Linked DNA regions of Homo sapiens. The protein of the gene in region 1 purifies or fractionates together with the protein of each later gene. This does not show direct contact. Each region holds a gene or a part of one and is shown in the gene's direction. Other genes may lie near its edges.

Region 1 (5,172 bases):
TAAAAACATAATTATCTCACATTTCAGAGTTGTTTGAAAGAAAATGAGAGAAACCTTACATCCAAGTTCTATAGGATTTCTTTATTACTTCGTCAATCAATGATTACAGAATGATGTAAGATCAAAGAAAATATCTAGCTTTCTCACTATCAGCTTTTAATCTGAATAAGCTAAACAGGACTGAGAGAAAGCACATGATTTCTGCCAGAATGGATAGGCTTTCATTGCTAATTTCAACTATGGACTTGTCTCAGTTTAACCTTTTGAATAATTCCTCCGCAAATCTAGTTTCACATCCTTGGTCATTTGAGAAAAAGACAAATCAGGAACTGAAGAAATTCAGAAACAAATTTTGACCCCTATCCAGCTTTCTTGTTGAATTATCTTTTTAATTCTAAGGCAGTATACTTCTATAATGAATAAACTTTTCCCAACAAAAATGAATAACCAGCCATTACCAGCTATTAAAATAGTTATTTTTACATGCTGAAAGTGACAAGTTTTATATATTACTTTGAGTTTGTTTGGAGGCAAAAAAAAAAAAAGCAGCAGCAGGAGAGGGGTAGGAGGGATCACTGTTGATCTTTGCAAAATCGTGTTAAAGTGGAAGATGATGATGATGGGGTCAGACCAGTAAAAAGGTCTGGGTACAGATCCAACTTGTTAAAAGTTGCCTGGGGAAGAAGGCTATAAAAAGATAAAACTCTTTTAACAACTATTCCAGAGTGATGTGTTATTAGATACTTGGAAAAGTTGCAAAGATCCATTAATGAGGCAGCTTTGTTTTATATGGCTGAAAAGCTGATGTCAGTTCTTGAACCCATCATTTCAAATAATTGATCAGTGGTCTCTGTGATATTCTCAAAGGTATATCCTAACTCAAGAAACATGAAGGTGGTTTTCAGAAAAACCTCTTTGTTAGAGTTGGACTTGGTTTCTCCTTATTTTCCTGGTGTTATGGTTTTCTATTGCACCATGACAATAGTGAAGACACAGAGGAAGGGTCTGAGCCAGAAGACATGAGCAGGGAACTGGACAAAGTCCAAGGCTGGCTAGGGCAATAGGATCTTATTTGGGAGTCTGTTCACTATCGTACTGAGTTATTTGTTCTTTTATCTTATTCTATTGTCAAGATCAGGCAACTGGTTAATTTTGCTACCCCACTTCTCTTTGATAACTACCCCAAAACTTAGCAATTCAGAACAACAACCGTTTTATCATATCTCACCATGTTGAAGGTCAGGAATTTGGGCAATTCTTCTGCTCCTTGTCACGTCACCTGGGGTTGGTGGACTTCAGCTGACTCTGAGCTTGTGTCAGAGGTCCAACACTCACATGCCTGGCACCTTGGCAGGGACAGCTGGATGTCTGAGCTCAGCAGAGCCCATCTCCCCCTCCATGTAGTCTCAGGGTCCTCTCTGTTTTTGCTCCAGCAGGCTCAAGGCTCCTTTCAGAGGCCAGACCTGGAACTGCAAAACATCATTCTAGCCACACTCAATTGATCAAAGTAGTCACAGGCCAGCTCAATTTAAGAACTCAACTGAAGAAGTGGTAAAGCATTTGCAGCTGTCTTTTAATTCACCACACCTGATTCTCTTCTAAATTGGAATTGGCCAAGCAGTTGCAGTGGCTCAGCCTTAGGAGGCCGAAGCAGGAGGATGGCTTGAAGTCAGGAATTCAAGACTACCCTGGGCAACATAGCGAGATCCTTGTCTCTACAAAAAATATTTTTAAAAATTAGCCTGTCATGGTGGTGGGCACCAATAGTCCCAGCTACTAGGGAGCCTGAGATAGGAGGATCCCTTAAGGGAGTACAGGTTCTGGAGGCTACAGCTATGATTGTGCCACTGCACTTCAGCCTGGATGACAGAGTAAGACCCTATCTCTAAAAAAGAATTCTTCCTGCTAGCATTTAGCTTCCAAACCTCCATATGGTATGAGAGATATAAATCATTAACAACCATTACAAATGATCAAGTTTGCTGTTAATTAAAGATGTGCAGAGGTAAAGATAGGGGCGGCACTGTACCTTATGGAAGTGGTAAATAAGAATAAATAATAAATTCTAACACAGGCAAGCATTCATTAACAGGCACTTGGTAGAAACTTCTTTCTTAAGGCACTTCAGCCACCTATTTATTCCCTGATCCAGTAATCCCACTCAAGATAATTAATCCAGAAAAATCATTCAGAAAGAGAAAAAAAATTATGTGTACAAACAAGCTTATAGGCGTCTTATTCACAGCTGTGAAACACTAGAAATGATGTGAACATAGAAAAAAAATTCAAGTAAATTATATCAAAATCTTGTTATACTGTGTAGCCATTAAATTGATAAGGGCCACGCCCGTGTAGAAACATAGGAGAGTATTTTTAATGTAAATAAAGCTAAAATTTAAAAATTGTGAGTCATATGATTATAGTCTATTCAAACTATGCCTGTGAGAATCAAAACAAGAAAAGAATAAAAAAATAGATTTTGTTGAAGTGGTATCTTTTTAATTTGTTTTATTTTATAATGTTTTAAAGTTCTTTCAAGAATAAACATTTTTAAACTTAATGACTATCCCAGACCACACCTTCAAGATTCAATAAACATGCATTAAATGCCTCTGGCCTTAATAACATGTAAAAATCTATTTATAGGCACACGCACTAACAAACATCTTTACATGAATAAAATATATATTTTATACTTTTATTTTGGCCTATCACATGACAGGGTACAAGGTGATATAATGCAAAAAGGCTCTACCGGGAGTTGGCAGCCCTGAGCCATGGTCCAGACGCCCCAGGTTCACTGGAGACCAGGCAGAGGATGCGACAAGATGCCAGCTCTCAGGTTCCCAACTGGAACATATGGGGCAGAAAGATCAGCCCATAGATCCCTCCTTTAAATTATTGAATCTGGTCCTCTAAAAGTATTAGCTTTTAATCTGTGGCCTAATTCATGGCTAGCTTGAAAAATAGGAAAATGATCAGAATGTAGTGTGCTATTAGCTTTAGCCAATTAAGGTAAGGTAAGGTTACACAGTACATCTGTGTAAACATAACTCTTAGAATTATGCTGACTGATTCTTCACCAGAATTCCCTAGAGATTAAGAATTCCCTAGCCAATTAAGGTGAGGTAAGGTACATGCATGGTAACAGGCATGAAAACGCCAACAAAAAGACACTTCATTCAACAGGTATTTATTTGGCACTTGTTGTTCTAGGTATTGTGACCAACATACAAAATGTCAGCCTTTATGAAGCTTATATGCTTTTTTTCACTTTTTTCTTTTCTTGCTTTCTTTTTTTTTTTTTTTTTTCAGACAGGGTCTTACTCTGTCACCCAGGCTGGAGTGCAGTGCCATGATCAGGGATCGCTGCAGGCTCAACCTCCCTGGGCTCAGGGGATCCTCCCACCCCAGCCTCCCAAGGGAATATAGGCATGCACCACCATGCCTGGCTAATTGTTGTATTTTTGTAGAGATGGAATTTCACCATGTTGCCCAGGGTGTCAAGCGATCGCCCCCCTCAGCCTTCCAAAGTGCTGGGATTGCAGGCATGAACCATCGCACCCGGCTGGGAACTTACATTCTAAAGGAGAGGGGAGAGCATAGATGATAAACCAAATAAATAAATAGAACATTGTTGGTCACATTGTAGTGCTATGGGGAAAAATGAATCAGGGTGAGAGAGACAATTCTGGAGGGGGAGTTGGCAAACTTAAGTAGGGTCTCCAGGGAAGGCTTCTGTGAAAACTGCAATTGAGTAAAAACCGGAAGGAAGTGAGGAAGCAGCTCTGAGGACACCTGTAGGCATTCTCACAGGGGTGGGAAGCCACTGGGGGGTTTGGAGCAGAGGGTGCTATGGTCTGACGTAACAGCCTCACTCCAGTTGCTATGTTCTGACGTAACAGCCTCACTCCAGTTGCTATGTTCAGACGAGGCTGTGGCAAAGCAAGGTGGACATAGGAAGATCAGTTAGGAAGCTATGGCAATCATCAAGGCACTGCGATAACAGGTACGATGGTGAAAAGTGGTTGCATTTGGATATATCTTGAAGGAAGTTGTTGCAAGATTTGCTGAAGGATTGGATGTGTGGTGGAAGAGGAGTGAAATCTAACCCAATGTTTGGGGCCAGAGATGGGAACAACTGCAGAAAGGTTTAGCCACAAGGAAGACAAGGAGTCTGATTTGGGAGTGTTTAGATGCCTGTTAGGTGTCCTAGTGGAGCTCGCAAGTAGGCAGTTGGAGGTACAAGTCTAGAGTTAAAGGTGAGGCACCAGGCTAGAGGTATAAATTTAGGAATTACCGCTAGATGGATAGTTAAATGACATTAAAGCCACGAGACTAGATGAGATCACCAAAGGAGAGCGCATAGACAGAAAAAACGTCTGAGCACTAAGCCCTCAGACAAATCCAATACTAAGAATTTGTGGAGAAAGCGGGGTCCAGCCAGGTAAATGAGAAGGAATGGCCAGTAAGTCAGAAGGAAAACTGGGAGATTGTGGTGGAAATCAAGTGAAGAAAGCATTTCAGAGAGGAGGGATTCTTTCTGGAACAGCAGTTGTCAGTGGTGGAATCTACACTTGCAGATTTTCCATGACAACTGAAGATGTCATGGATATACAGAGAGAGATGTATATACATACTGACTAGATGGAAGGCTATTTATAATCGCACCTCATGAGAAAAGCATATTTGTGTGTCAGTGTGTTGTGCCATTATATTCAAAATAGAAATCAGTTTTGAAACATCCAGTGTTTCATGGTTTCCATACATTTCCCCACCTCCATTATCACAAATGATTGTTCCTAATTGTTCTTATGGCTGTTTTCCCCTTATCTCATGGAGATGTTATCGAGATCTGTGTGATTATAAATGGAAAATATTCTAATTTTCAGTGAGTGGGTTAATGAAGGAGCAGACTGATCATGAATTATTTGCTAAACTAGACTCTAAAAATGACTTCTACTTATTTGTGAATGTTGAATTTACATTGGATTATGGATGTGTAATATTCTGGGAACTCATGGCGCTTTATAAAAATGAAGTTGGTCTGTGAACATGTTCATCATAAGAACATGTTGACCACATTTTATTCCTTAAGCCACTTTTCACCCCAAATCCTGGCAAGGAAATCAGGTTTTCTTACTCTCTAATGAAACAGGGTGTTTTATTTAA
Region 2 (4,527 bases), on another chromosome or scaffold:
AATTTTTATTTAGTCCTTAACTATGTAAAACCGTATCAGTAGAAAAATGTGCTGGTGTCGTGTCTAAAGATGGATAAATTTCTTTGGAATTTATCTTTGGAGACCAACTTTATGAGGCAGACTTTTTGTCTACAGCTTTGGAACCAAAAAAACTTCACTCTAATTCAGTCCTAAAGGCTATTTTACATTTTGCCGGGGTAAAGTGACTTCAAGATACAGCATGGTGTCTTGTATCTAGTAGAATATTGTGCTAGCCATCTAAAAAAGTGGATTTGAGCCTTAATTTGGCCGTTTCTCAATTGTCTAGTTGACCTTAGACAATTAGTGTCCATGGCTTTCCTTTTGTTTTTCCCATACTGAGGAACTTAAACTACAGCTCTAAAATGTCTTTTGGTTTTAAAATTCTGAATGCTTATATACTACTATTAAAAATTAAAAATCCCTCAAATAGTAGGGCAATACAGGTAATATGAAATTAAATGTATTTTTATCCATTATTTGATTCCCACCTGTTATTTTATTTAGAATACGAATACAACCAAGTAGGGAAAAACGTATCAGTAACTGCTATTCAACTTAAATTCAGCGAATTAATAGCTGAATAGAAATAGCTAATGACAATGCAAAAGAGAAAACAAGCCATATTGCTAAGAAAAGGATAGTAAGCTGCTTAGAAAGAACCAGCCTGTGTTGGAAATAATTCTCTTCTAGATAATTTACCTTATTTTCTTGGCTTGTACTAATTGAATGGAAGTGGTTAATTTGTTCAGAGTTTATTGCCGTTTGATGCCACCCCAGTCTATAGTTCTGTGTGACTTTCCATATTGAAAGAGTAGGGTTAGTAGCCAGGTTGTCAGTCTTTTACAAATGTCTACATAAATGTCTACATAAATCTGAAAGTGGTTTATATTCAAGGTTAGTTTTTCAGTAGCGTCTCCTCCTTATTCATTCACTTTTACTGTGAAGACTGAAATCCAAAAGCCAGGTTCCCCAAAAAAGTATTTTTAAAAAATTTTAGGGGACCAAAATAAATAGAGGAAGACCAATATAAAAAAATATGTTCAACTATTCCATTTTAAATTTAAAGCAGAAAAAAAAATTGTGCCCCTCAGACCTAAAGGCAGCTTTAAATGTATATAGTTTGGTGAAACATTTGGGAAATATTAATTTGGAGGTTTAGAAGCATACGAAAAACAAATTCAAAGCACTTGAAAGTAAAGACAATATCATGAGGTCGAAAAAACTTCAAAAGGATATTAGGTAAGAGAAAATGTGAATGAAAGCAGTGAATTTCTGCCTCTCCTCGTATTTAGGGTACTTAAAATTACTAAAAAATACTGTCTTTTTACCATACAGCTAGATGGCCTGTATTATTCTTAATGTGGCCAAAGGAGTGAAGACTGATTAGGGTTTTAGAATTTGGAACTGTAGTCACATAAAGGCATCTTTTGCATTTCTTAAACCAGTAATCTACATTTTCTCCTGGAAATGGAGAAATATGAAATGTGCTGTGCATAGCTTTTGGAATAGAAAACAAAGTTTTAAAAGAATGGATATGTTTTCTTGCACAACTTGTAAAATTTTAATTAAAAAATTACCTCATTTTTCAATCCATAAGGTGCTTTGCTCAAGTTTGTGGGATGTTTGTACCATCCCATAAAAACCCCCTTCACCCAAACTGTATTTGAAATATGCAAAATTCATAACTAAGGGATAGCATTCCTTGGAGACTTTGTTTTGTTTTACTCTTGTTTACCAGCTGGGCCAACATGGTAGATATATGAGATTCACATATGGTTTCATTAAAGCACATAGGAAAGTGCTCAGTCAATATTTAATTAGTTTAATTAGATAAGGGAAAGGAGAAATCCTAAATTTGATGGATTCTTTTATACTGTGAATATATTTCCATCAGTGTTGGTAAGATATCAAATGACTATCAGTTGATCCCAGTCATCAGTGACTTATTTGCATATTTAAGCCCTATTCACAAGAGACCATAATCATTTTAATCTTATATTTTCCCTCAGGAAATTTAGGGACTCTGAAGCCCCTATTTTATTCTCTTGGAGTAAACTGTTGAGTGTAGTTACAAAAACTTTTATTTATGACTTAAAAAAAGTTTAGCTGCTATTTCAGTGAAAGTGTAAAATAAAACGGTCATGATTTTTTTCAATTACAGAATAGTTACAAATTTTACCATGTTCATCTATTCCACAGAGCATGTTAAAAACAACAACAACAAAAACCTAACAGCAATTACAACCTTGGTGTTGCGTTTATTCTAATCAGAGTGAATGATTATAATCACACTTTGCTATTTTAACATAAATTGGTGCTTTAGAGCATTAAAGAGGAAGCAGCAGGCCCTGTACTCAGTATTTATTATTTCTTGCCTCAGAATGCAAAACAACTTTAAAGTGTCTATATTCATATATATGTGCATTTCTTAAGATTTAAATACAAACTGTTGTTACTCCTTAAGCTTCAGGCTTTCTGCGAAAGCTCTAAGAATATCTTCATTACTATGCTTGGTCAACTGGAAGATGGTATTAATAAGGTCAGAATTAGGAATTGGATTGCTCTGTGGGTCCTCCGGTATTGTGCAGAGGAAAGAAAAATGTCTTTCACACCACAAACTGTGTGTCTGAACCCCAGCCAAACAAATGTGTTCCATTGGTCCAATATATAAGCATTAACAACAACAACAAAAAATTTAAAACAAGTAAATTAATGCATTCACATGATCACTTCTTGAAAATGGTTCAAAGCATGTTTTCCTGATGGTGGGATTGTTTAAATGACATGTTTTAAAGTTTTTAATACTTTATTAGTTATGAAGTGCTTCTTTTATATGTTAAGTTTAGGTTGCCAGTACTCATAATTTTTATTTCTGCAATTATGTTATAATGAGTTGTTTGCATGCCTACTTAACCCAAGTAAAACGATGCTGTTTGCTCTGGAATGTTCATCTTTTAGACAGGTTTTGGCTCATTTCCAATCATGGTGCAATATAGTGTAACATTCATTTGTTTTCATTCAACAGTTTTATTTTTGTCATAATAAATAATTACTTTTCCAATACGAAGTGAATCCAGTGTTTTCTTTTAAAGGTAAATCTGCTTTAAGTTATTTGCTTGCAAATAATAGAAACCCACCTATGCCAACAAAGAGAGGATAATTGGGGTGAGGTGGTGGAGGCTCACAGAACCCACGGAACAACTGGATTTGTAGAACAGACTGAGACTAGAGACTGGACCATTTAGGAGCAAGCAGGAAGTTACCTTTTTTCCTGCTCATCTGTTTCTGTCTTTCACCTGACTGGATTTCTCTGTTTCCTGATCCACATAACAGATAATGTCCCAAGTCCAGTAGCCTCCTAAATTTGTACAAGGGAGAAGTCAGATTATTGTTAGACTTTCAATTACAATTCCATATTCCCCAGGGAAATTGTTCATTAGCCTGCATTGGGTCATTTCCTCTCTCTGATCTAAACAACTGGCCAAGTGGAAGGTGCATTTACCAGAGAAGGGGAATCCCTGGCCTGGGAAGGTGATCCGGATTGGTGTGTACTCCATTGTGGGGTATAATTGGGATCATCTACCAAAGTTGTGTCCTTGTAAAAAATAAAATAAAATTGAGATCTAATAATGAGTGGGATAACATTTTCACTATGTTCATTCTTCACATTCCTCTAAAGTGGTTTTAACTCCACCGTTTTTGCTCACAGACCTCTTTGGGAATGTGATAAAAGTTGCCTACGTAGAAAAATGACTCATAATTACAGAGTTAGGAATTTTGAGTAGAAGGTTAGGAATTTCAGGTACCTAGGCTTAAGAGTTCTGCTACACACGGAACACTCAGATTTCTTCTGAAAGACACCAGAAACTAGTAAGATTTCATTCTGCCTGTTATTTTTTAATCAGTAAACTTAAGATTGGTATCTTTTTTAAAGCATGTTTTATGTAGGTATTTTTGTAGGTATAATGAATGCATTAAACTGTTCGTGGTTAAAGTGTACAATTTGAAAAGCTTTGATGTGTATACATTTGCAAAATCTTCACCACAATCTGGGTAATGAAAATACCTGTCACTCCAAAAGTTTCCTAGTGTCGCTTTGTAATCCTCCCTTCTGCTCCACTCCCCATCCGCAGATAATCACTGGTTTTGACTAATTATCCCCAATTTTGTGATTTAAAACAGTCTAAAATTAAGGTGCCAGCAGGGCTGTGTTTCTCCTCAAGGTTCAGGAGAGAACTCATCCTCACCTTTTTCAGCTTTTAGAGGCTGTGTGCATTTCTCGGCTCATGGCCCCTTCCTCACATCACTCCACCATCTGGCTTCTGTCAACACATCTACCCATTCTCATCATCCTATGCTTTTCTCATATTAAGGACCCTAGTGTTTCTAACTAGGTTTTCCTTGATAATCCAGGATAACCTTCCCATCTTGAGGCCCTTATGCCAGGTAAGGTAACACATTCACATGTCTTGGGGAATTAATTCTACTGCATGTGAGCTAAAAGAG

The links. Proteins that work in one complex are often made in the same cells at the same time.
Region 2: the proteins of EDNRA (region 1) and ARL5B purify together in Homo sapiens (affinity purification with mass spectrometry; 3 studies listed by BioGRID and IntAct, with this or other methods). This does not show direct contact.

The regions. Positions count from the first base shown.
Region 1 is NC_000004.12:147,525,064-147,530,235, forward strand, and holds part of EDNRA (endothelin-1 receptor isoform a precursor), read left to right. Parts: intron 1-66; exon of another isoform or gene 67-1,433; coding exon of another isoform or gene 1,434-1,488; exon of another isoform or gene 1,489-2,487; intron 2,488-5,172. UniProt on the Homo sapiens protein: Receptor for endothelin-1. Mediates its action by association with G proteins that activate a phosphatidylinositol-calcium second messenger system. The rank order of binding affinities for ET-A is: ET1 > ET2 >> ET3.
Region 2 is NC_000010.11:18,678,556-18,683,082, forward strand, and holds the end of ARL5B (ADP-ribosylation factor-like protein 5B), read left to right. Parts: 3' UTR 1-3,084; downstream 3,085-4,527.